Homo sapiens: one gene and its partners. The protein of the gene in region 2 interacts with the protein of the main gene of each other region in a pairwise test. Each region holds a gene or a part of one and is shown on either strand. Other genes may lie near its edges.

Region 1 (3,500 bases), on a different chromosome or scaffold from region 2:
AACTTAGAATTTCAGACCTGGAAATGATGTTACATTTCTACTAGTCTACCTTATGTCTTTAGAACTGAAAAAATCTGAGAACCAGGAAGTTCCAGTGACTTGTTCCAGTTCAGATAGCTAATTAATGACAGAACCACAGTTAGATTTCTGTTTGCTCTCTTAATTTAATACTTTTGCACCATTCCAATGGCTTGCTTATAGAGCAGGCCATCTTTAGTCATCTCCTTTATGTTCCTTTATATTGCTTACATCACATTTTATAATCATTATACACATTTACATATTTTGCTTATATGTGTTGTATTTCAAAGAGTTTTAAGAGAATCTTATTTTTCACTCCCCAACCCTCACCCCCCTTACTACCATGGAGATCTCGTACATAATCTACCAAATTGTAAAAGAACTTTGCTTTCTGATGAGATGCCTTCCATAAAGCTTGGTTCCATCTTCCAAATAGAGGTTAGTCACTCTTCTCTCTCTCTCTCTTTTTTAGAGGGTATCTCATTAGGTAATTCAGAGGCAGACAGACAATTGCTGGAAGCTGCAAAGGCTGGAGATGTCGAAACTGTAAAAGTAAGATACAGTGTTACGTTTCTGTTAACTTTGGGTTTTTATTTTGACATTGTTATTTAATCTGTACTGTTACAATGAAGAGCCTGGTTTATTTGTATGGGCCTTGCCTTAAAAGGTCAATAATACAATCTTAATTGTTCTCTACAAATGAGTAGCTTTAAGTAATGAAAGAGAAAGACTTCACTTTCACCTGCATCCCAGTGAATATTACATTCACAAATATAAATAAATTCGGGTAATACCAAATGGGTTTTGCTTGAAGAACCTATTCATTTGTCCCTTTAACAGAATAAAGTTTATCAAATTATTTTATATTACTGTTTACGTATGACACATAAAACAAGAAAGGGGAAAAACAGTGTATCACTTCTGTCTATAGATTTCTTCTGATTTCTTCATTTCTTCACCCCATCTACCTCTAGGGATCCAGGGCTTAGTATAATAATAAATACAATGTTGCCACTTCTCTTTCCCAGGGCTTGCAACTTCAGGTCTTACCTGTTTCTCCGACAAGAGTCTTCCCCAGAGTAACCCTTCTTACTGTTTTGACTCTTGCTGTAGAAATATGTATGTAAAACTGGGCCCAGTGGCTCACACCTGTCGGTAATCCCAGCACTTCGTGAGGCTGAGGCGGGTGGATCACCTGAGGTTAGGAGTTTCAGACCAGCCTGGCCAACATGGCGAAACCCCGTCTCTACTAAAGACACAAAAATTAGCTGGGCGTAGTGGGATGCACCTGTAATCCCAGGTACTTGGGAGGCTGAGACAGTATAGACATCTCAGATAACTTCAGATTTGTTTTCTAAATTCATTTCTCACAGAAAAATGCAACTATCATGCAGTTTTATTATTTGACATGTTTTTATTTTGATCCTCATTATTCTCATTCCCTTAAGTAGGAGGCTAATAGGATATCGAAAGGAGGATTTTGTTTCTATTACTACTGACTTGTGGAAATACAAATTACTTCAGTTAAAAGGTTGTGAACTGATTTTTTTTTCAGGAAACATGAAAATTGAGTTGAAAGCAATTAGCTGATTTTTTTTTTTTTTTTTTTTTTTTTTTTGCTGTTTGTGGGAAGGGAGAGATACAGAATTGTAAATGCTCATTCTCTTACATATATTAAAGAACATAAAACTATATTTAGTAAACATGTTAAAGACTAAACTTTGTTTTTATAAAGATAGAGGGAGTCCAGAGGAGGGGATAGATAAAGAGGAGATGAAGTTGGGGGGCAGGAAATGGACTTAGGGAACACAGTAATGCCATTGGATTCAGGAAAACCTGTGCTAGGCATCAGGCTTTCTTCCCTCCCCTCTGCTTTTAAAATCACTTGATGGACATTTATCTCCATCAGCCATTCTTCTTATCTACCTCCAGACAGATGGCTCTGTACGAATCACTGGGACAAGAACATCTGCGTATTACCTAATGAACACTTAACTATTGTGCTCAGTTGTGTTTGTTCACTGATAATCCACCAGGCTGGATACTTTATTCGACACATGCTATTAGAAAACCTATCTCAGAGTGGACAAAATTAAACTGACAGGTAAAGAGTAGAATGGCCTGTGATAACTACCAAACCAAGCAGCACCTGGTACACGTGTTAAAAATAGTCATTTCTAGGAACCTGACTTGAGACCCACTGAAATACCATCTCTTGAATGGGGCCCTGAATCTGTATATCTAGCCAGATCTTATTTGGGAAGCACAGAAGAGCTTTTTACCAGGACAATGATTAAACCCCTTGAGGTAAACCCACTGATAGTAGGCTCCTTTATTTTATTGAGCTTAGGTTATCCCTGTTTTGGGAGTAGGTTAGTAAAAAGGGGGAAAGAGTTTTTACTAATATGGATATATTCTTTTTGTTTGTTTGTTTGTTTGAGATGGAGTTTCACTCTTGTTGCCCAGGCTGGAGTGCAATTGCACGATCTCGGCTCACAGCAACCTCCACCTCCCGGGTTCAAGCAATTCTCTTTCCTCAGCCTCCCGAGTAGCTGGCATTACAGGCGCCCGCCACCACGCCCAGATAATTTTTTGTATTTTTAGTAGAGACGGTTTCACCATGTTGGCCAGGCTGGTCTCGAACTCCTGACCTCAGGTGATCCACCCGCCTGGCCTCCCAACGTGCTGGGATTACAGGCGTGAGCCACCGTGCCCGGCCTAAGATAGATATATTCTTTTGACTCTTTAAGCACTCTGATTTATTATCTATGTTGCTTTTCTTCCCCAAACTTTCATACTTTTCATAACTACACTTCCTCCTCTGAACCAAAGAGCACAGAAAATTGACTGTTTTCTTAATTCTCCCCAGGACTGTATAAACCATCAGCATTTTTTTTTCCTTTTTTCTTTTTTGGAGATGGAGTCTGGGTTGGTCACCCACGCTGGAGTGTGATGGCACGATCTCAACTCACTGCAACGTCTGCCTCCCAGGTTCAAGCGATTCTCCTGCTTGACCCTCCCAAGTAGTAGAGACAGGGTTTTGCCATGTTGGCCAGGATGGTCTCAAACTCCTGACCTCAAGTGATCTGCCCGCCTCAGCCTCCCAAAGTGCTGTGATTACAGGCATGAGCCACCACGTTCAGCCTAACCATCAGCATTCTATTAGTTATTTCATTCCACATGGAGTGGTATGGTTACTGAACCACCAGCATCAGCATCACCCAAGAACTTGTTAGAAGTGGAGATTTTTAGGCTCCACACCAGTTACACTGAAAATTTGAGGGTTGGACCCAATGCACATTAAAGTTTGAGAACCACTGCTCTAAAGGAGTACTTTTCAAACTTTAATGTGTTTCCATATTACCTAGGGATCTTGTTAAAGGGCAAATTCTGACTCAGTAGATAGAGATCTGAGATTCTGAATTCTTAATAAGCTCCTTGGTAATGCTGGTACTACCGTAATCTCATGTACCTCTATG
Region 2 (3,500 bases):
GACTCTCAGGAATGCATCCTAATAGGACCTGTATTTCCAGGAGTAAAGTACTGCTGTATCTGTTAGCATTGCTTTGTCTTTGGAGTCACTTGGTATTGGTAGATCTCATTTTTTTTGAATGAGAAATAATTTTTCATTATACAGCTAAATGTTTTTGGTACAATGGGGGATTTTATATTATCTTTTTCCCATTACCCATACAGATAACTGTATAATACAATTATCACATCTGAATAGGGTTCTTTTGTCCACATTTATTTTATTTGCTCCTAGTAATCCCTCTAAGAGGTCTTCATGCAGGTTATTTTTAACCTCGGTTTACCTACGGAGAGATGAAATGGGGTGGTGTCAATATCTGAACACATGCATGTCAAGTAAGGTGTGGACACGTGGATTCAGGTGTCTCCTGTCCACTGGGCGGGCTACCGGGCTGGCTTCAGATGTGGGTTCATCTCACCTGGCTGCCTGACTTCTACAAACAAAGGCCTGTGAACGTGGTGGGCCCAGGACCTTTGATACCTTATCAGAATACGGCTCCTCCGTGAGATCGATGCCTTCAGCGTGCAGCTTGTTTTCAGTGAGCGTTTCTAGATCCACTCCCCGGGCACAGGAGACCTTCCTGGTCAAAGCCGGGCCCAGCTTCACACCGTGCTCCTGGAGGCTTGTGTTCTCGGGGAGCTCTGAGAGCCAGGGGGGCGGCCTTGTGCTTGGTGGGCTGCCAGGCGCCTGCCCTGAGAGAGGCCTGGGAGCCAGTGCTGGGGGACAGTCGCTAGGGCTGGTGGGGCTGGCGGGGCTGCCCCTTTTCACTGGCAGGCATGGCGCATCGGGACTGGGGAGGGCCCCACTGGGGCCCATGGGAACAGGGTGGAGTCCGTTAGCAAGGCGTTCTCTGCTCTTTTTGGCAGGAACAGGTGGAGGCTGTGATGGAATTTTGGGCTGCATTCTCTGCTCAGCATCTACCCCTTCTTTGGTGCCCAGGGGATGGTGTGTTCCTTCAAACTCGTGTCCTTTTCTGTGGCCCTCCAGAGGCGTCCTTGCTAAACCGTGTTTAGCTCCAGGAGGCTGAGCATCATAGTTTCTGGGCAAACACTGAGGGGGTGACAGGCCGCGACCAGAGGCTGCGATTGAGCCCTCCAGTTTCTTAGTTGTCAATTTCTGAGGTTCAGAAAATCTCTTGCTTTGGGTCAGTAGCAATGCATTGTCGACAGCAGAGTCTTGCTCCAGGGGCTGGGCCTTCGTGGAAGAGGCGGTCGTCTTCTGTGGCACTTCAGGTACAATCTGAGGGGGCGGTTCTGTCACCTCGGTAGGCACGTCTTGCTCAGCACCAGGCTCCACTTGAAGGTCATCCAGGGAATGGGATCGGGGCCAAGTGTCCACAGTCTGGGGGCCCTCCAGGGTCTCACAGCTCCGGCAGATGGAAACTGGGAGGCTTCTTCGGTTTTTATTCAAACCAGTCACACCAGGTGGGTCACAGCTCTTGGACGTGTCTGGGGCAAGGCCACCACCCAGCCTGCCCTCCTCCTGTCCCTGCTTCAGTGCATCCCCTGATTTCATTAAAGGCAATGTTGGGTAATTGCCCAACTGGTTTCTGCTAAAAGACTTCAAGCTGGGCTCGGTGGATGACTTGGCAGATAGGAGGCTAGCTTTCCGAGTCTTGCCTGTGAGACAAGGGAATATTTTACAATCACATTTTAAAAGCAAATCAATCAAACGGATGCATAAAGTTGTGCTAACATAATTGAAATCTCCAACACCCACATCCTATTGTTCAATTACACTAAAAACATAAAATCACCATTTATGACATCGGGTGATAGAGGGTTATTATGGTTCCATTTTTATTTTTAGAAAGAATTCTTAGTCTTATTAAAGGAATCATGAAGACTGAAATTAATTGGGTTACATGGGAAAGAAATACGCTGTGTCAAGCAGTAAAATAAATCTTGGCTTAAGTCTGTGCCCCACTGCAATCGACGTGGAAAGAGGCTGATCATCATACCGCATATTGATGAGATTTGTTGGGTGAGTACAATTTCTCAAGGTCATGATGGAAAAGGAGAGCTGGACTGAATTTCACAACAGGTTCTATAAATGGTATCCCCTACAGAGTGATCTGTGAATACTCAAATCCCACCTTCCCTGAAGCCCCTCCTTCTAGTAAGTTTATCCTAGAAGCAATCAACCAACCTGGACACAGACAGGTAAACTTTTGTGAGTACTTTGCCAAAGAAAATCTACAAAATACTGATAAAGTTTTAGGTCCCAGCAAAGCAACAGTCCTAGTTACAACTGCCAGACTGATAACTGAACTATCAACCAGACATAATCTACTTATCTGACGACTGGTAGTTGATACTAAACTGCTGCTGTTGGATAAGCTTTGCCAAGAACTTACAATTCATGGGCCAGACAATGTGCTGAATGCTTTGTTCTCATCAGTACTTACATGTGCGCGCGCACACACACACACACACACACACACACACTGTCCCTTGTTACATTTTTGGTTGATAACATGTTTGTTGTGTGCTTTGACCCTGTCCACCTGTATGTTCCACACTGATAAACACCAACATGCTATGCATTTGTAGGATATTATTGTTGTTACATAAAGATCATCAGCCTAGTGCTACTACTGAAGATATTGACCATGGTCCTACTTTTCATTATTAGAAAAATCATCACAACTTAAGGAGGCCAAGGCAGGTGGATCACGAGGTCAGGAGATCGAGACCATCCTGGCTAACACGGTGAAACCCCGTCTCTCATAAAAAATATAAAAAATTAGCCGGGCATGGTGGCAGGCGCCTGTAGTCCCAGCTACTCGGGAGGCTGAGGCGGGAGAATGGCATGAACCCGGGAGGTGGACCTTGCAGTGAGCCAAGATCGCGCCACTGCACTCCAGCCTGGGCGACAGAGCGAGACTCCGCCTCATAAAAAGAAAAGAAAAATCATCACAGATAAATGAAGAAATACCTCTTCAGAAAAAAAAAATTGCATCAGATTTTAAAAGTGGGTTGAAATAGAAAATTATTAGAACCTCTTTAGCATAAATTTAGAAATATGACTTTCTTTTCCCTTAACTCCCAATATAAAACTATATATATAAGTTCCATTTTTGCATTCTGCATTACATTAGAAAGATCCCTGAACTTACTTTGAGTTCAAAGTATGGTTCGCTAGCAATCTAGTTCTTCAGCAGGTACACCTGAATTCATTTGGGCATGAAAAATTCTGCCAGTGATATCTGTGAGATCCTTACCAATCACCAACAGTTGGGGGAATTAATTTCCTGAAAAGTTTTGGATATGAAAAGGTTATTAAGAGAAAAAAAAATTCTTCAGAACCTACATGAGCTACATAAGGATTCTGATGTTTACTGAAACTGAGGATGTACTGGGATACTAGGTGAGTTTTGCATCCTGTCTTGACCGAGGCTATCTGAATATTATATATAGTTTGGGGAGAACTACTATCTTCCCAAGTTGATAGAAAACCTT
Region 3 (3,500 bases), on a different chromosome or scaffold from region 2:
AACACTATGCTCAGCTCTAGACGAGTCACCTGATAAAACAGCTGCCTTAAAGAGAAAATGCTCAGAATTCTGTCTTAGCAGTTTGGGGTGTGAGTGAGGGAGCAGCAGGTGCCATCCCCACCCCTCATCCCTGTCCTCTGCTGGAGTTTCCAGTTAACCTCAAAGAGAGTCCCGCAAGTCCGTCTGTGTCCTCCCTTTGGGGTGTTGCCGTCCAGTCATGCTGAAATCTGAGCTAAACATGCGGAGTTTACTTAGGAAAACGCTGCGTTTGGAGAATCGTGTGCCAGGGAGACGGACCTGTTGGTGTCCTGGTGTGAGGGATGAACAGTCTCAGGTTTTGTGGTTAAACATGAACCCTCTGTGGCCGCAGTTTCCTAAAACATCTGTTTTTGGCCGTAGTCTTGATTTTGCCATCCTCAGTCCCGTGCTGCAGCCTCGCCGGCCTCTGGGGGGCTCCTGCTGTGTCTGCAGGTGTAGCTGAGTCTGAGGCACACATCAGACGTGGGGCTGTGAGCTAACTTGCAGACATCCCTCCATTTCTTAGTTTTCCTATGAGTGGAAAATAGAAAGTCTATCTGTTGAAATTTTATTTCTCAAATTGTGGTTGAGGAAACAAATTTTTTAGACTTGGAAGTACAGATGTTCCTTGAATTAGGATATTTTCAGCTTCCCAGGGGCTCACTGGGAGGTAGCCCCATCGTAGGTCAAGGAGCTTAGTGTGCATATTGCTTTTACACCATTGTAAAATGGAAAGACCGTAAGTGGAACCGTCGTACGTTAGGAATCACCTCTAGTTTCTGAATGGTGTCCTCTTCACAATGCTGAGGTTGTCATTACCATGAGTTCCAGGCGGGCTCTCTGTTGACTGTAGGGTTGCTCGTCTGTCCCTGCGTTTCTCATGGTCCCCTCTCCTTTCTGCCCCCCAGCGGCTAGCCTTGATGTACCGAATGCAGGTTGCAAATATTGACAAGTTTGAAGAGAAGCTTCGAGCAGCTGAAGATGAGCTGAATATCGAGGCCAAGGACAGGATCCCAGTTTCCTACAAGCGAACAGGATTCTTTGGAAAGTATGTTGGATGTATTTGTTGATGCTTGAACTAAACCTAACTTGGCTTTGTAATCTGAGAAACAGATTGCAATCAAAAATCTCAAACTGTCTTTGCCTATAGTTAACTAGACTTTTTAGTGGGAGGGTTAAATAAATATAGAAGTGAATGATACAATGCCAGGAGATTTGGAAATATAGTTATCCCTGGGTATCCATGGGGGCTGGTTCTCGGACTTCCCAAGGATACCAGCACCTGAGGATGCCTAAGCCCCTGGTGTAGGATGCTGAAGTCTAAGCCCCTGATGTAGATGCCGAAGTCTCAGCCCCCGACGTAAGATGCCGAAGTCTCAGCCCCCGACGTAGGATGGCGAAGTCTCAGCCCCCGACGTAGGATGCCGAAGTCTCAGCCCCCGACGTAGGATGCCGAAGTCTCAGCCCCCGACGTAGGATGCCGAAGTCTCAGCCCCCGACGTAGGATGGCGAAGTCTCAGCCCCCGACGTAGGATGGCGAAGTCTCAGCCCCCGACGTAGGATGGCGAAGTCTCAGCCCCTGGTGTAAAATGCCGAAATCTTTGTGTGTAACCTAAGAACATTCTCTGATATGCTTTAAATCATCTGTAGGTTGATAATAATACCCAATACCCTGTAAATACTATTTCAATCGTTGTTATACTTTAGGGAATAATGACAAAAATGTGTCTGTGCATGTTGAGTATAGATGCACGTTTTTCCCCAGATACATTCATTCTGTGCTTGGTTAAACCTGCAGAGATGAAACCTGTGGCTGTGGAGGCCAACCGTGTGCAAGTCCGTTGGAGTTTGTTTAGTCACTTTCTTTAGTTGTGTGGCGCTTCTGAATTCACATTCTTGTATAATTTTCACTGACTGTGCTCTTTGATGAAAGCTTCCCAAATGGTCAGAGTGAGTGTGCAGATGCCGGAGATACCTAGTGATCTGGCCAGCCTTGTGACAATAACAACGTTCAGCTTTTTCTATTTTCAGTATATTTTGTTTTCAAAAGTAAGCGATCACTTTCAGTTAGCAAGGCAAGATCAGCCTAGCAGTAAGAAAGAAAGTCAAGGAGGACCGTGATAATGTCCTGGGCTTGCTCTCTTCTACAGACAGGAAAATGGAACGGGAAAAGGGTAGACACAGGAAGGTGAAATTCTCATTTCAGTGTTGAGAGGGAAACAGACCAGGTGGGAGCTGTCAGCACGTATGGACCATGGACCCTGACAGGTTCCTTAGTAGGACAAATGAGGGGCCAGCGGGTACTGAAACAGAGGTTTATTGTTGACTTGTAATCTCTGAAGATGTAGAATGCCAGTGACTGGCAAGTACTCCCTTGATCAAAATGTACCTCTAGCCGGGTGCAGTGGCTATGCCTGTAATCCCAGCACTTTGGAAGGCTGAGGCAGGGAGGATCTCTTGAGCCCACAAGTTCGAGACCAGTCTGGGCAGCATGGAGAACCCCATCTCTACAGAAAAAAAAAAAAGATGCACCTTTAATTCTATAACCCAGCAACACCTGGAAGATCACTGCTCTGAGGCTGTGTGTCTCATGTCTTTGTAGGCCAGTGATGTACAGAAGATGGAGGGTTGGGGCAGGCCCATTCTCGTGTCTTCGTAGGCCGATGATGGACAGAAGGTGGAGGTTTGGGCCGGGCGCGGTGGCTCACGCCTGTAATTCCAGCACTTTGGGAGGCCGAGGCGGGCAGATCACGAGGTCAGGAGGTCGAGACCATCCTGGCTAACACGACGAAACCCCGTCTCTACTAAAAATACAAAAAAAATTAGCCGGGTGCGGTGGCGGGTGCCTGTAGTCCCAGCTACTCGGGAGGCTGAGGCAGGAGGATGGCGTGAACCCGGGAGGCGGAGCTTACAGTGAGCCAAGATAGCACCACTGCAGTCTGGCCTGGGTGACAGAGCCAGACTCCATCTCAAACAAAAAAAAAAAAAAAAGAAGAAGATGGAGGTTTGGGGCAGGCCCATTCTCATGTCTTCGTAGGCCGATGATGTACAGAACAGAAGATGGAGGGTTGGGGCAGGCCCATTCTCGTGTCTTTGTAGGCTGATGATGTACAGAAGATGGAGGGTTGGGGCAGGCCCAGGGCAGCCCCTCCTCAGGATGAGGGCAAAAGTCCTGGGATTTGCTTTTTTTTTTTTTTTTTTTTGGAGTCAGGGTCTCACTCTGTCGCCCAGGCTGGAGTGCAGTGGTGCAATCTCAGCTTACTGCAGCCTCGACCTCCCAGGATCAGTGATTCTCCCACCTCAGCCTCCTGAGTAGCTGGGACTACAGATGCACACCACCACATCCAGCTAAGTTTTTTTGTATTTTTAGTAGACACAGGGTTTATTCTTACATTTTTCTTTTCTTTTTGAGATGGAGTCTTGCTCTGTAGCTCAGGCTGGAGTTCAGTGGCACGATCTTGACTCACTGCAGCCTTCACCTC
Region 4 (3,500 bases), 4.1 Mb from region 2:
GAAGATCACTTGAGCCCAGGAGTTCTAGACCAGCGTGGGCAACATAGCTAGACCCTGGCTCTACTAAAAATAAAAAACCAGCCAGGCATGGTGGTGCATGCCTGTAGTCCCAGCTACTCAGTAGGCTGAGGCAGAAGGACCACTGAAACCCAGGAGGTCAAGACTGCAGCTATGATTGCACCACTGCTCTCCAGCCTGGGTGACAGAGTGAGATCCTGTAGCTACAAAAAAAAAAATTATTATTATATCCTACTGACACAATTTTAGAGAATGTGAAACTTGCTTGTATGTTTACAAAAAGGTGTGAATCTGGAAAAGAATCTGAATACAGAAGACTTTAAGACTTTGAACAATACAGGCACAAAGGAAAATGGAGAAGGTTGGTGCAAAGCAAGCAAGTGTACTCAAGTTCTAAATGTTGGGAGTCATGTTTACATTAAGGCAAACTGAGACAGGAGATTTTAAAATTGTTGGGTTTACCATTCTCTAGATGTTGTTGACGATCCTCTACAGCCTCTTGTACAGCTTGGTAGCGGCCCAGAAAGCTATCGAAGCCCCGCTGGACAAAATCTGGGGCAGAAGGCTGAGACATCAGGGCCGAGCAGCTTGCACGAGCCATTTCAATTTTGGGGTGAAGGCCAAGAAGATTTGTCAATTCCCGCTAAGGAAGAGAAAATACGGTCACACAACTCACTGAAGATGAACATCCTCACAGGAAGTTAATCAGGGCAGCATTAACTTAAAGTTCATGATACGAGAAGCCCTCCTTAACTCTGGAACTGCACATAGAATTCCTCCACTTTCCAGACCGTTGGCTCCTTACCTGACAGGAATCCTTCAAGCTTGGCAAGGACTGCCGGGAAGATTCAGAAATGGAAGTGTGTTTTACCCACTCCTCCTTTGTCTTGATGACCTTTTCAAGCTCATCAAGCTGCTTGAAATAAGCATTTATATCTTCCTGTAGCTGAATCTTTCTTTCTAGATCTTCCAAATGTTGAGATACATTCTTCCATTCTGATGAAACCTTCTCCAGAACATTTTTTATTTCTTCAGTAGGAAGGCCTTCTATGCAGACATGAAAAACAAGCAAACAGTCTATATATTACAAAATGTGTCTTGAATTTATTCTGAACATTCTAACACTCAGAATAGTGAGGCAATGTCACACATAATGATCACTTTCTTAAGTCCCTTTTAATACAACAACAAAAATTTATAATGATGCACTTAAAAATAATGATGTTTATTTCAATTCCTTGAACAAAGAAGAAAGACATTTTAAAATAACGATTCAGGCACATCAGTAGAACTTCAGCCACTGCCTTTTCTAGATAATATATGTTTCCATCCATGCCATGCTTCTACTCTGCTAGTTTATCACCTGAACCAGTGAAATAAGATCAACTACCTTGATCTGTCTAGGCCCGACTTCAGAAAGAAGACCCTTTGTCCTAAGAAAAAAAGAAAGCTGGCTAGAAAAACTAGGAGGCAGCTCAGGTCTTGGTGACCAAAGCACAGTGTCATATAAATTAAAAAATGAATGGCGAGGATGCCTTATGCTGGGAAGCAACCTGGTGAGTGCAGGAATATTAAGCCAGCAGCCAGGCTCTAGAAGCATCAGCAAGCCCACTGGAGACCTTGCACATAAATAAGCAAATACCAAAAGACTGAGGCAGCAATAAGATGATCTACTTTAGAAACACATCAGGGAAAACAATGCCACCATTTTTATTACTGAAATCTTATCATTTTATTTGTCCGATATTTTTGAAAAGTAGAGAATGTTCCTAAAAATAATAAAGTCATATATAATAATAGGTTTTATCATAGTCCTTCCCTTAATCTAAAATACCTTCAAATCCTCTAAAATGACTATGAAAAAGTATGGGAAATCTTCAAAGGAATCTTTCTATTCGGAGGAAAACATGCATACCAAAAGGATGGCTTCACATTTTTATTGAGTAGGAAAGCAATAAAACAATCCTGCTTTATAAACATATATGATCAAAATCCAGGATAATGAGAGCTTGAACTAAAAAACAAAGGCATAAAAACAAAAAGTCATGTATGATCCACAGACAATGCAACTTTGAAAATTTTTATAATACACTGTGTCTACTGAAAATCATAAATGAGGGCATATCATGCTGTCATTTGAATGTGTCACCTATGTCAATTGCAGAAGTTCACTGTTCACCACCATCTCTCAGGTAAGAGAATATGAGACATAAGCAAAGCATTCACACCACAAGCCATGCTGCATTACCCCTGTTAATGGGGAGAGTATACAAAACAAATCACCATTTTCCTAACAATATGAACAATGGAGATATGGGTCATGCCCCTGCCCCATCATTTCTATTCTAGGCAGGCAAAGGAATAGTAACACCAGCCACATCATCTTTATGTTGGACAATTCATACTAATCAAGGAAGAAAATTAAGTAGGTAAATAAAATTTCTGAGATGGAAAATTACCACTACTCATCTAGAAAACTGGAAAGAGGTGCTCACTTCAAGAACAAGGGCGGTTAAAACAACTTCAGTTATTTTTTCACTGACAATGTCTTACAAGCCATTCATTTTGCCTCTTTAAACCAATTTTAAACATCTGAATCTCCCTTTCTCTAATCCTGAGATATTGCTGGTTACAGTGATGCCCGGTAATGATTCAAACACAATTTACATCTTATAAAAGGAAAACTGCACATTGTCTTTAAAAATAGTTGTTTTACTCCCAGAGATCCAGAGTTTAAAATTTTCTATTTCTATAAAACACAGAGTTCTTAGAAGGTGACTAGTCAAAAGGCAAAATCAACAGAAGATCACTTTATTAATTGTCTAAAAGGGAGAACATAGAACACATTCCTGCCACTCAGTCTCACTTGACTTTACACTTCTCAGTCTATCACTATTGGAATCAAGGGAAACGTTTACAAAACATAGGACCTTCACCAAACTTCCTGGGCTTATATGCTTAGGCAACCACAATGGGCATTGATTCATAAAGCCACATTATCCAGATGCCCAACTACTCTACTGTATTTTACTAGATGAAGAGCTCTAGGAACAAGATAAGCTAAACGAAGAAAACCAAGTATATCAGCTATGAAAGTCAAATGAAACACACTATTTTATTTATTATTATTATTATTATTATTATTATTATTATTATTATTATTTTGAGACAGAGTCTTGCTCTGTCACCAGGCTGGAGTGTAGTGGTGCAATCTCAGCTCACTGCAACCTCCGACTCCCTGGTTCAAGCGATTCTCCTGCCTCAGCCTCCTGAGTAACTGAGATTACAGGCATGTGCCACCATGCCCAGCTAATTTTTGTATTTTTAGTAGAGACGAGGTTTCACCATGTTGCCCAGGATGGTGTTGATCTCCTGACCTCGTGACCCACCCACCTCGGCCTCCCAAAGTTCTGGGATTACAGGTGTGAGCCACTGCGCCCAGCCTCACGCTATTTTATTTTCTAAAATTGTTTCTATGCTCT

The links.
Region 1: the proteins of SASH1 (region 2) and TNKS2 interact in a two-hybrid assay, tested with the Homo sapiens proteins (one large-scale study listed by BioGRID).
Region 3: the proteins of SASH1 (region 2) and SPG7 interact in a two-hybrid assay, tested with the Homo sapiens proteins (one large-scale study listed by BioGRID).
Region 4: the proteins of SASH1 (region 2) and UTRN interact in a two-hybrid assay, tested with the Homo sapiens proteins (one large-scale study listed by BioGRID).

What each region holds. Positions count from the first base shown.
Region 1 is NC_000010.11:91,836,426-91,839,925, forward strand, and holds part of TNKS2 (poly [ADP-ribose] polymerase tankyrase-2), read left to right. Parts: exon of another isoform or gene 1-228; coding exon of another isoform or gene 229-459; intron 460-493; coding exon 494-573; intron 574-3,500. UniProt on the Homo sapiens protein: Poly-ADP-ribosyltransferase involved in various processes such as Wnt signaling pathway, telomere length and vesicle trafficking.
Region 2 is NC_000006.12:148,541,838-148,545,337, reverse strand, and holds part of SASH1 (SAM and SH3 domain-containing protein 1), read right to left. Parts: intron 1,659-3,500; coding exon 520-1,658; intron 1-519. UniProt on the Homo sapiens protein: Is a positive regulator of NF-kappa-B signaling downstream of TLR4 activation. It acts as a scaffold molecule to assemble a molecular complex that includes TRAF6, MAP3K7, CHUK and IKBKB, thereby facilitating NF-kappa-B signaling activation.
Region 3 is NC_000016.10:89,525,403-89,528,902, forward strand, and holds part of SPG7 (mitochondrial inner membrane m-AAA protease component paraplegin isoform 1 precursor), read left to right. Parts: intron 1-926; coding exon 927-1,066; intron 1,067-3,500. UniProt on the Homo sapiens protein: Catalytic component of the m-AAA protease, a protease that plays a key role in proteostasis of inner mitochondrial membrane proteins, and which is essential for axonal and neuron development.
Region 4 is NC_000006.12:144,456,335-144,459,834, reverse strand, and holds part of UTRN (utrophin), read right to left. Parts: intron 1,066-3,500; coding exon 824-1,065; intron 662-823; coding exon 481-661; intron 1-480.